Regions from separate parts of the Homo sapiens genome. Here region 1 is linked to region 2. The links come from fine-mapping of genetic effects on gene expression. Tissue or cell type: whole blood. Region 2 holds a variant in brackets; the other region holds the start of a gene. All regions are shown on one strand. Distances are between the middles of the regions.

The links. PIP is the estimated chance that this variant, and not a neighbour inherited with it, causes the effect. A credible set is the group of variants that fine-mapping cannot tell apart.
Region 1: PHOSPHO2 starts here. The variant in region 2 is the best candidate, but not a certain one, in a credible set for the expression of PHOSPHO2 in whole blood (TOPMed, PIP 0.80).

The regions. Positions count from the first base shown.
Region 1 is chr2:169,691,487-169,698,046 of GRCh38, reverse strand. PHOSPHO2 (phosphatase, orphan 2) reads right to left here and starts at 3,578. Exons shown (of 4, transcript NM_001008489.4): 1 at 3,425-3,578; 2 at 2,800-2,832; 3 at 516-686. CFAP210 (cilia and flagella associated protein 210) reads left to right here and starts at 3,642. Exons shown (of 9, transcript NM_001085447.2): 1 at 3,642-3,786. The coding sequence starts at 3,720. PHOSPHO2-KLHL23 (PHOSPHO2-KLHL23 readthrough) reads right to left here and starts at 3,578. Exons shown (of 5, transcript NR_144936.2): 1 at 3,425-3,578; 2 at 2,800-2,832; 3 at 516-686. RefSeq lists a silencer at 3,270-3,549 and an enhancer at 3,680-3,859.
Region 2 is chr2:169,756,545-169,762,193 of GRCh38, reverse strand. No RefSeq gene overlaps it. Among named protein-coding and RNA genes, the nearest start is that of KLHL23, 26 kb to the right of the region's middle. The variant G/A (reference allele first, on the strand shown) is at 2,661.

The DNA.
Region 1 (6,560 bases), 65 kb after region 2:
ACTAAGTATTCTGTGTCTCTTAATTTAGAATATCTAGAGAATAATTAACCTATAGGGGTATCACCTGTTGTGTGAATGTGGCTGGTACATAGTTTTTGTTATTCTGGATCCTTGTATCACTAAATGCCTAATCCAGATGCTTCTGACTGGTTCCCTGAAATTTAAATGCAGAATTCACTTTCCTACAGAAACAATGTAATAAATAATAAGGCATAATTGACAATCACAGTAGTACTGTAACTAGGCACATTTTAAATTAAATATGCTTTTTGAGAATTCTGAATTTATAATTAAAACAAATTTCAAATGTAACTCACTGTTGTTTGAAAACTGCCTCAAACCTAAACTTAATTAGCCACAAATTACTGAAATTCCTGAATTATTAGCCTCAAAATAGCATGAGACTGAGGTAACATAGTTCCCCTGCTGATCTGAAAGTGCACTTTTAAAATTTTCCCATCTTTTTCTGTTAGTATTTTCTCACCACTCAACATAAACCTTTAAAAAATACTTACCCAACTTAGTATTTCCAAGACAATCTTACTTCAGCATTGGGATTAGGATAAACAATCATGACAATCTTCAGTTTTAAACATCAGCCAGTTGTTTTCAAATATTACTCCTATTCTATATACAGGGAACAGAGTCTTCTGGTTTGGAGCAAAATAATGGAAACTTCTTAACTCCTAAAATTAATAAAAGTATTTTAAAAGCTTTAACATTTGTATTTTCAGGCCGGGCGCAGTGGCTCACGCCTGTAATCCCAGCACTTTGGAAGGCCGAGGCGGGGGATCACGAGGTCAGGAAATGGAGACCATCCTGGCTAACACAGTGAAACCCCATCTCTACTAAAAATACAAAAAATTAGCTGGGCGTGGTGGCGGGCACCTGTAGTCCTAGCTACTTGGGAGACTGAGGCAGGAGAATGGTATGAACCTGGGAGGCGGAGCTTGCAGTGAGCCGAGATCGCGCCACTGCACTCTAGCCTGGGCAACAGAGCGAGACTCCGTGTCAAAAAAAAAAAAATTTTTTTTTTTGTATTTTCTAATTATGTTGTTTTTCTAATGTCAGAAAAGCATCTTTTGGCAATAGGAGAACAAAGTTTTGCTTTCCACTTGGTATCGACTTGGTGTCGAAAATAAGAAATGTTATGTGAAAATAAGTTTTTGTCCAGTGGATAAAATCAGTGTTAAGCTGATTGAGATTTTCAGAGTCCATTTTTTCTTTGTACTTGTTTAATAATAGAGGAGTTCCACATTCTGTTGTCAATAGACATTTAGTGCTGTACTAGAAATTAAAATGTCTCCAAAAATTAAGAATATGAACAAAGATTTAGTTTTAAGAATGTGAATCTGTTTTGAAACCAATTTGTTAAAATTCCAAAAAGTTAACTGTTCTCTTCAAAAGCACAATCTATGTCTATTTGGTATGTCTGCAATGTTTCCATAGTGTAACAATATCCTGCATACTTTACACAATAATGAAAATTAAAAACTACACAGACATCCAAGAATTGGGAAATAATTAAGTAAGATATGCATGTGATAGCAAATAACAGAATATCCAGCCAGTAAAAGCCAAGATATTCAGTTCAAATTAAATAAGCAAGTCACAAAATAGTGTGTACAGTATAATCCTGTTTTTGTTTTAGAAAATGTTTACATGTGCAGTGGGATGGTTATGGTTGGTTCAACCGTAGTTCACACTTTTTCTACATCAATTTTGTAATAAAATTTTTTTCTTCTCAGAATAATTTAAACTCTGTTTCAGATCAGAGTGCATATGCTACCTTATTAAATTCACAACAAAGAAATAAAAGAGTGGTGGGTATAGGACAAATAACTCTAGATTGACTTGGTTGTGACAATCCACAGGTTGGAGCTGGAATCTCGAGTCTGAAGTCAAATTATATCTGACCACCATGTCAAATTGGCAAGTAACTGACATCAAATCATGAGATTCAATACTTTTGTAACCAATTTTGTTAAAATTCCAGAAAATTGTTGTTGGGAGACAATTTTCCCTGCGTCTCTGGTGGTTCTGCATGTCTTACTGACTGCCCTTTCCTCTAGACTATTGTCTCAAGGATGTTTGTACACTGGACAGCCTTGAGAAACATGCTTATTTGTCCAAATGATAAAGATCTGGGTTCCCTAAGCTCAGGGCTCCTTTCCTGTAATTCGACACACACTACATCTAGGTGACTTCTTGCCCACTTTGCATTATCCTGTGGGAACTGGGGCTTTAGGGAACTCAGGCGAAATTGCTGATTTACTGGCTACTGCTGGGAGTAATTCATTCCTGAAATGAATAGTCTTGTGTCTTCCATGAAACTGCCAGGCTAAGTTAGCCTGCAAACAGGGTAAAAATCTCTGTTCCTTCCCAGTTCTTGAAACTTTTTTTTTTTTTGAGACGGAGTCTCGCTCTGTCGCCCAGGCTGGAGTGCAGTGGCACGATGGTCGGCTCACTGCAAGCTCCGCCTCCCAGGTTCACGCCATTCTCCTGCCTCAGCCTCCAGAGTACCTGGAACTACAGGCGCCCGCCACCACGCCTGGCTAATTTTTTTGTATTTTTGCTAGAGACAGGGTTTCACCGTGTTAGCCAGGATGGTCTCGATCTCCTGACCTCGTGATCCGCCCGCCTCGGCCTCCCAAAGTGCTGGGATTACAGGCGTGAGCCACCGCGCCTGGCCCCCAGTTCTTGACACTTTTTAAGGTATAGTTCCAAAAACCTACCAGCGCTGTATGTGCACAAACTAATTTCTGTCTTCAAATATTTTCTTAATTATTCCATACTTACCAGCATTATTACGTGGAACATCTGATAGAAAACCTAAAGAAAAATAGCACGACTATGTGTTAGAACATTCGTTATTAAAAATCTTTTTGTTCTTTCATTTTGAGAGACTCCAATTTGGTGCATTATGTGTACACGTCAGAGCCAACTTGTTAGTAATGAAGTTATCTGTACATCAATGTGTTAGAAAAGCATCTTTTGAAACCAAACGCGCAGCTACTCCTAACAGATTTCTGTGGTCATGTATTTACCAAGAAATTTAAAATATCTCAAAGGTCCTAACGTAAATATTCTAAGCATATCATTACGTTTTAACATTCCTATTTTTAAAAAACTTGGCCCCATCTAGTCCTGACCATGCCTCAGAAACCAAAGGATTAAAAAAACAGCGTTTATGTCAGCGAATCCGCGGGTTTTTATAGTTAAGGGAGGGCTTTGCTCCTCACACTCCACCCGCGAGGAGATCTGCGGACGCACACACCACGCCTAGGCCTCGCGCGCTCACACACCTGCCGGCTCCACCCCGAGGGTAGGCATCGGACCCAATCGGGGGTCGTCCCCCATGGGGAGCGCGCAGGTGGGGATGGGAGTAGCAGGCAGGGCGGGGGCCCACGGGCTTCTCACTGACCCAGTCCCGCCGTCGGCAGCCGCCCCGGCGCCCGTGACGCTCCTGCGGGTTCAGTCCTTTGGCCTCGCCCCACGCCTGCCCTCTCGGCAGCCCCACTCACAAGCCCAGCTCGCAAGCGCAGGCGCCTCTCTTCTCTAGCCCGACCGCCAACTGCAGCACCTCCCTTGTTCCTCGGCTACGGCTGGCGTCACTTCCGGCGGCGTTGCCAAGCAACCGCGTGGTACGAGTAACAACTCCACCGGCTGGCGTCCGCGGCGCTTGGCGCCACAGTCACTTTTCCAGATCTAGGAGCATCATGGACACCTCGTCAGAGATGCTGGTACGGTTTGGACGGCGCTGTGGACGGGCGAAGGAAAGTACAGGTGAGCTAAACTGACCTATCCAGGGACAGGGATTGTTTCTGGACCCCCGGCATGGAGTGAGAGGCGAGGATGCCGAATGAGGGCTTCAGTTGCCTTTTGAAATGGACTCCACCAGGTCGAAAGCATCCTCAATAAGCATCTTTGGGCTCTGTGTGAAGTTAGGCCGTCTTGCCCTCAGGTGAATGGGTGAAGGAGGGAAACGGGGAGTGGAAGTGGGTGGGAGAATGTTTACAGAAATAGGGGTGGAGAAAAGATAGGAAATCAGAGACCCCCACCCCCAGCCCCAGCTGACCTAAAACTGCGCAGTTGCAGCTCTGAGAGTCTGGGTTTTGTTAAATTTCCCGCACGCTTAAAGTTTGTTATTCACTGATTGAATTGGAATATCTCTTGGAAATATAAGTCACCTCTTTAGAGGCTTGGCTCTTCTGCAAACCTGCTGATTGGTCTTTACTAAAAGTCTCTGAAGGAAATATCTCCATTTCCTCCTCTCTAAAGTAAATATAAGGTCTCTCTCTAAGTCAAATGCTTTTAGAGAGTTAAAAAAAAATCGTGTGACATAAAGTACTGTAATTCAGGTGACCTGTTATAACAATTTGATTTTGGAATAGAAATAGACTTCTAAAGAACTCTATCAATTCTAGCTACAACAGTTTCTTACGTCTGTAAATTAGCAATTAATGTTGTCATGGTGACAACTAGAACTTTGGCAATTTGAAGTATCTTCATGTCATTGCCCGAGCTTCTGTAGCAATAGTGCCCCCTGCACCAGATGCAGAGTGACAGCCAGTCATTCTTCACTAGTGGATATTTATGCAGTGGAGGTTTTATGAGGTTAGCAGCGGACTTTTGCCATGTAAAAGGAAAGAAACAGTACCAACATGGCCAGTTTTGGAAAAGCACAATTAGTCCCACACATTCACTTTCCTGCATATGCATTTCTGCACTACCTGGTTTAGATTTACCTAATAGTTGTTAAATAATGTTTTGTGGCAACTAGCTCAAAAGCTTCCACCTGAGCCTCACTGCTAAATTTTAATCTCCATTTTTAGGGGAAGGCTAAGTTGGAGAGAGGTTCAGAGATGTGTGCAGCTATTAGTAAAATAAATAATTTATAAAGATTTAGTGGGATGACATCAGCCAGAATGGTGAAATAGGATCTATGCCTGAAATCCTCTCCTCCATAAAATCAACAAGAACAGTGGCAAAAATCATCAATATCGACTTTTTCAGAACTCTGGAAATTAACCAAAGGCTTGCAACAATTTGTAGAGTGTTTACTAAAGAAAAACAGCTGGATTTTTGTAACAACAGCAAGGTTTTTGGCATTTTAACTTGCCATAGTCCTATACTTTTCTCCCAGCCCCGTGTCAGCCTAGATAACCACAGTAATCACAGTGAAAAATAGTGACTTAGCAACTGGTAGAGGGGACAAAACAGAATTTGACCCACTCCAAAGCCAGACAACTGTTATTATTCGACATGTTTGATAGTTCCTTGGAAAATCTCACTCATGAGGCTTATTGTTATTTAGTCTGACTTCAAACTCACCAAGTATGTTTGTCAAATGTTCAGTGGCAATTTTAAATATCACAGCTATCAGAGGCATGTGTGGGAACTTAATCCCCAATGTAAAAATGTTGGAAGGTAGGGACTAATGAGAGGTGATAGGCCATGAGGGCAGAGTAAAGGGATTAATGCCATTATCTGGGGAATGGGTTCATTATAAAAGTGGGAAAGTTGGCCCTCTTCTTTCTCTCTCTCTCTCTCTGTCTCTGTGTGGTGTGTGTGTGTGTGTGTGTGTGTGTGTGTGTGTGTGCGTGCGCCTGTTGCCCTCTCTTTGCCCTTTTGCCATGTAATGCCTTCCATCATGTTATGATGCGGCAAGAAGGCCCCTGCCAGATGCTGGCACCTCGATACTAGCTTTCTCAGCCTCCAGAACCATAAGCCAATAAATTTCTATTCCTTATGAATTACCGAGTCTCAGGTATTCTGTTATAACAGCATGAAACAGGCAGGCAGTGATACAGTTGGGAGGCAAACAACAAGCTGACCGAAAATCTTAAAAGGATCAGTTGGGAAGTGATATGTCCATAGGGGGCTTTGGAAAGCTCCTGACATATTCCTGGGAATCTAGAAGGCCAAGTGCATGCATAGAGCTATGTATATGCCCAGGAAAGACCTGCAAATGCCTCTCACCTATGACTTACCTTGAGACTCTGTTTAAGAAAGAAGTAGAGGCTAAGATGGAGTTGTAAATTGCCTGCCCGAGCATTGAAGGCATGCCTTAATACTCATAGACAGTCCTTTGGCAAAGACTGGGAGACTTGTTAGTTCCAGTCATCCAAAGATATGTCTGTCTAGTTATTAGCTGACCACTAAGCAAACCAGAGACTGCAGTGACTCCAGTGGCCACATGTGACAAAGAATACAGACTACAGAATTGGTTCAGAGAAGTCCTGAAACAAACAACAACAGCAGGAATGAGAAACTTTGGGTGTATGTAGAAATCTGATTTCCAGAGTTGACACATATATGTACAGTTTTTAATAAAAATTATGAAAGATGAAAAGAAATAAAGTATGACCCAAACACAAGAAAAAGGTTTCAATAGAAAGTGTCTTTGAAATGGACTCCACCAAGTTGAAAGCATCCTCAATAATCATCTTTTGGCTCTGTGGAAGTCTGGCCATTTTGTGCTCAGTTGAATGGGTGGAAGAGGGAAAGGGGGAGTGGAAGTGGCGGGGAGGATGTCTACAGAAGTAGGGGTGGACAAA
Region 2 (5,649 bases):
ATGCCAGTTGCAAGGTAGTTGCCCTTTAATAACTCAAGCTGTACATTTGTCTCATGTGGATTTCTGTATTCGTATCATATTTAACAGTAAATAAAGTTTTCAAAAAATCATACAACTAGTAAAGCTCTAATCTCAAATGTCTGCCCGCGCACAAGGAGGGCCTGTGTTCTCTCGACAGGGAAGAAGGTACGACTCATTTCCTTGATGGTCAAGGTGTGAGGAGGGAAAAGCTATAAAGGGTTAGAGAAGGGCTGCAGAAACACACCTTCGGGAAACCACAAGTACCACTTTTATGTATTTATCTGTCCAGGAAAGAACTAGAAACAAAAGTTTGTCTGTGAACTTTCAAATGAAAGATGTATTTCACAAGTCTCTGCTGAAAGTGTTCACAGATTATACATGCTCAGCCTGACTTTTAAATGCCACTGAACAAAGGTTGGGGAGTGGGTAATAATTAACTACAGTCTATTAAGGCTGATGGATACAGTGCTGGTACTTCAGATTTCCCAACGAGAACCTCTGTAGGTACTTGTAGGTATACAATCTTGTGGTCTGTTTTGAATTTCAAAGGTAAAAGTTGAAATGTTGGCAATCTTGTGTATCCAACGTGGCACAATTTGCAGTGACTCTTCCTAAACCAGCTCAGAACACCCTTAGGAGGCGGCCAGTTGGGATCTGCAATATTCACTGGAGGTTTGAGCAGGATGCTCAACACCCGTCCAGTGAGGCCCCCACAAAAATATTATCTTTTAACTCAGAGGGCCCCAGTACGAGTTTAACAGTCTATGACTCACAACTTCAAAATAACATCGAAATTCAATTCAGAGTTAAAGACTGTATGACGATGCCCCGGATTTTAAGAAGACAGTTCTGTTGGCCATATTTTTATGTTCATTGCTATATAGTCCATAAAATTTGTGTCACAACTTCTTCTTTTCTTGAATTTTTATAATTTATATACCCCAATTTTACTAAAGACTACTATATTGTTTTTGTTTTTCAACCTTTATTTTAGGTTCAGGGGTACATGTGCAGGTTTGATATACAGGTTAATTTGTGTCATGGGGGTGTGTTGAACAGATTATTTCATTACCCAGGCATTAAGCCTAGTACCCAACAGTGTTTTTTGTTTGTTTTAAGCAGAGTCTCGCTCTGTTGCACAGGCTGGAGTGCAGTGGCATGATCTCAGCCCACTGCAGCCTCTGCCTCCTGGGTTTAAGCAATTCTCATGTCTCAGCCTCCAGAGTAGCTGGAATTACAAGCATGCACACCCATGCCTGGCTAATTTTTATACTTTTAGTAGAGACGGGGTTTTGCCATTTTGGCCAGGCTGGTCTTGAACTCCTCACCTCAAGTGATCCACCCGCCTTGGCCTCTCAAAATGCTGGGGTCACAGGTGTGAGCCACTGCACCTGGCCCCAATAGTTATTTTTTCTGCTCCTCTCCCTCCTCCAACCCTCCACCCTAAAGTGTTTGTTGCTCCCTTGTGTTCATGGATTCTCAGAATTTAGCTTCCATTTATAAGTGAAAACATGCAGTATTTGGTTTTCTCTTCCTGCATTAGTTTGCTAAGAATAATAGCCTTCAGCTCCATCCATGTTCCCACAAGACATGATCTCACTCCTTTTTAAGGTTGCATAGTATCCCATGATGTATGTGTACCACATTCTCTTTTTGCAATCCGTCATTGACAGACATTTAGGTTGATCCCATGTCTTTACTATTGTGAATAGTGCTGCAATGAACATTTGCAGGCATGTGTCTTTATGGTAAAATGATTTATATTCCTTTGGGTATATGTATACCCAGTAATGGGACTGCTGGGTCAAATGATAGTTGTTTTTAGCTCTTAGAGGAGTCACCACACTACTTTCCACAATGGCTGAACCTAATTTACACTCCCACTAACAGTGTATAAATGTTCTCCTTTCTCCACAACCTCACCAGCATCTGTTATTTTTTTCGTTTTTTAGTAATAGCTATTCTAACTGGTGTGAGATATTACCTCACTGTGGTTTTGATTTGCATTTCTCTAATGATCAGTGATACCGACCTTTTTTTCATAGGCTTTTTGGCCACATACATGTCTTCTTTTGTAAAAGGACTAGTATATCTTGGCCGGGTGTGGTGGCTCACACCTGTATTCCCAGCACTTTGGGGGGCCAAGGCGGGGGAGATCACCTGAGGTCGGGCGTTCGAGACCAGCCTGACCAACATGTAGAAACCCCATCTCTACTAAAAATACAAAATTAGCCAGGCGTGGTGGCACATGCCTGTAATCCCAGCTACTCAGGAGGCTGAGGCGGGAGAATCGCTTGAACCCAGGAGGCAGAGGTTGCAGTGAGCCAAGATCGCGCCACTGCACTCCAGTCTGGGCAACAAGAGCAAAATCCCGTCTCAGAAAAAAAAAAAAAAAAAAAAAAAGGCCAGACACGGTGGCTCACGCTTGTAAACCCAGCACTTTGGGAGGCTAAGGCGGGCAGATCACGAGGTCAGGAGATCGAGGCCATCCTGGCTAACACGGTGAAACCCTGTCTCTACTAAAAATACAAAAAATGAGCCGGGCGTGGTGGCGGGCTCCTGTAGTCCCAGCTACTCAGGAGGCTGAGGCAGGAGAATGGTGTGAACCCGGGAGGTGGAGCTTGCAGTGAGTAGAGATC[G/A]CACCACTGCACTCCAGCCTGGGCAACAGAGCGAGACTCCGTCTCAAGAGAAAATAAATAAATAAATAAGAAAAACGACTAGTATATAATGTTAGGTGATGCTTTATTTATTACCTTCAATAAAAATGAGAATTCCTCTCATTTAATTTCTTGACAATAGAATTAATTTCATATAGAGTCTTTCAAATGTGAAACATTGGTAAGTTGTGTTATTTACTACTGTGATAGTTAATGAAGCTTTTTTTTTCTTTTTTTTTTTTTTTGAGAGAGAGGGTCTCACTCTGTCACCCAGGCTGGAGTGTGGTGGCATGATCATAGCTCACTGCAGCCCCAAACTCCTAGGCTCAAGTGACCCTCCCACCCCAACCTCTTGAGTAGCTAGGACTACAGGCATGTGTCACCACGCCCAGGTAATTTTTTGGATTTTTTTGTAGAGATAGAGTTGCACAGGCTGGTCTTAAATTCCTGGCCTCAAGTAATTCTCTAGCCTGGGCCTCCCAAAGTGCTGGGATTATAGGTGTGATCACCACATCTGGCCTAATGAAGCCTTAATATCAGTATTGATATTTCATAACTTTATAAATATTATTTTCTTACACTGCTCTATTTCTTAGCTGTTAAATAATAATTGCTATAGCTAAAACACCTTATGAAATACTTGATATTATGAAATACTTTGGTTGTCTTATATAGATTGACATTTAATAATAATTGGGCTAGGCACAGTGGCTCATGCCTGTAATTCCAGCACTTTGGGAGGCCAAGGCAGACAGATCACTTGAGGTCAGGAGTTCGAGACCAGCCTGGCCAACATGGTGAAATCCCATCTCTACTAAAAATACAAAAATTAGCTGGAGGTGGTGGGGTACCTGTAATCCCAGCTACTTGGGAGGCTGAGGAATGAGAATCACTTGAACCCAGAAGGCGGAGGTTGCAGTGAGCTGAGATCCGGCCACTGCATTCCAGACTGGGCAACAGGCAAGACTTTGTCTCAAAATAATAATTGGCAAATAAATTATGTGAAAACAACTTTTTATATTAGCCTCAAGAAAGATGAACTCTTTATCACCTTGAGTCTTTCTCTCTCCTAGGAGCAAAAACCTTTTTTTTTTTTTTTTTTTTTGGTAGAGGACCACCCCCCTAGAACCCTTCTTCTAATATCTTAGAGGTTAGAACTGCTTCACATACATTCCTCCACCAAACACTGGCAAGGAGGATGGACTATCCATGATTGGCTTAGGGTAATTAAGATTCAAGTTACATGGCCTCCTAATATGCAAAAAGACCTGGGGCTCTTGATAATCTACATCTTTGACACAATTAGTCACTTCTCTTGCATTATATTTTGCTTCCAGCCCTTGGCAGAATGGTCTAATAGTCAATGACCCTGTCACCAACTTCTTTTTTTTTTTCCTAAACCTACTTTCTATCTTCCACTCCTCAGGAGTTCCTGACACCCATCATTGTTTTTTGTTTTTTTCTTTTTCTTTCTGTCAGAAACTCCTCTCAAATCAAATGGAATTGCGAAAGTCAGGATAAGACAATATATCACTATCTGTGGTATGCAGAATAATGGTCCCCTAAAGATGTCTACATCTTGATCTTTGGAATCTGTGTATCAGGTTACATGGAAAGGAGAATTAAGGCTCCTAACACTGATATGGTGAATCCTGTACCACGCTTCTATCCTGCAGAATTATAAAATAAATTTGTATTACTTTAAGCTACTAAGTTTGTGGTAATTTCTTACAGAAGTGATAGAAAACACAATACACTTTCCAAAAATATTTACATTTTAACAAGGGACAAAGCCCTTCCTTGACTTAGCATATTTTTCGTTGCAAGAGATAGAAACTTGATTCAAAACAAAAAAGGATCTATTGGGTCACATCACCATCCAACTGTGGAAAAGACAGGAATGGAACTGTGTCAGGAAGGCCTAGAACCAGACGTTAACATCATCCCCCATCCCCAGTCACTGGGCATCTGTATCTGTTCTCTTCATTCACGCCAGCTTAGTCCCAACAGCAGGGAACTTGGCCAACCACAGCTCTAGGTCTGCCCCCATGACTCAAACACCTCCCATTAGGCCCCATCTCCAATCCTGGGGATCAAATTTCAACATGAGGTTTGGAGGGGAAGAATTTCCAAACCATAGCATTCCACCCCTGGCCCCCAAAACTGATGTCCTTCCCACATGTAAAGTACAATCATCCATCTCAACGGTCCCAAATGTCTTAAGTTGTTCCAGTACCAACTCAAATGTCCAAAGTCCAAAATCTCATCTGAGATTCAAGAACAGTTCCTTTCAGCTATGAGCATGTAAAATAAAAAACAAGTTATTTCATTCCAAGATACAATGGTTATACAGGCATTCCCATGTCAAACATTCCCATGTCAAATGGGAGAAATCAGTGAAAAGAAAAGGGTAATAGGCCCCATGCGTGTCCAAAACCCAGCAGGGCAGGCATTAAATCTTAAAACTCCAAAATAATCTCCTCTATGTCCCACAACCTGGGCACACTGGTGGGTCCTGAGGCCTTGAGCAGACCCATCCCTGTGGCTTTTCTGGGTGCAGCCCATGTGGCTGCTCTCATAAGGTGGAGTCAAATGCCAGAGGCTTTTCCAGGCTGAAGGTACACACTGCTGGTGGCTCTATCATTCTGGGGGCTGGAAGGCAGTGGCCCTCCTGCAAATCCACCAGGCATTACTCTCGCAGAGGCTGGCTGTGAAGGGTCTGACTCTGCCGCAGGCTTTTGCTTGGGCACCCAGGCTTTCCAATAAATCCTCTGAAATCTAAGTGGAAGCCACATCTCCATAGCTCTTGCATTCTGTGGGCCTGCAGAATTAATACCACGTGGATATCACCAAGGCTTCCACCTCGTGCCCTCTGGAGCAGCAGCACCAATCTTATCTGGGGTTCCTGGGGTCATTTGAGCCACAGCTGCTACAGCCTGGGAACAGCATCCTGAAGCAGTGAGGAGCAGTG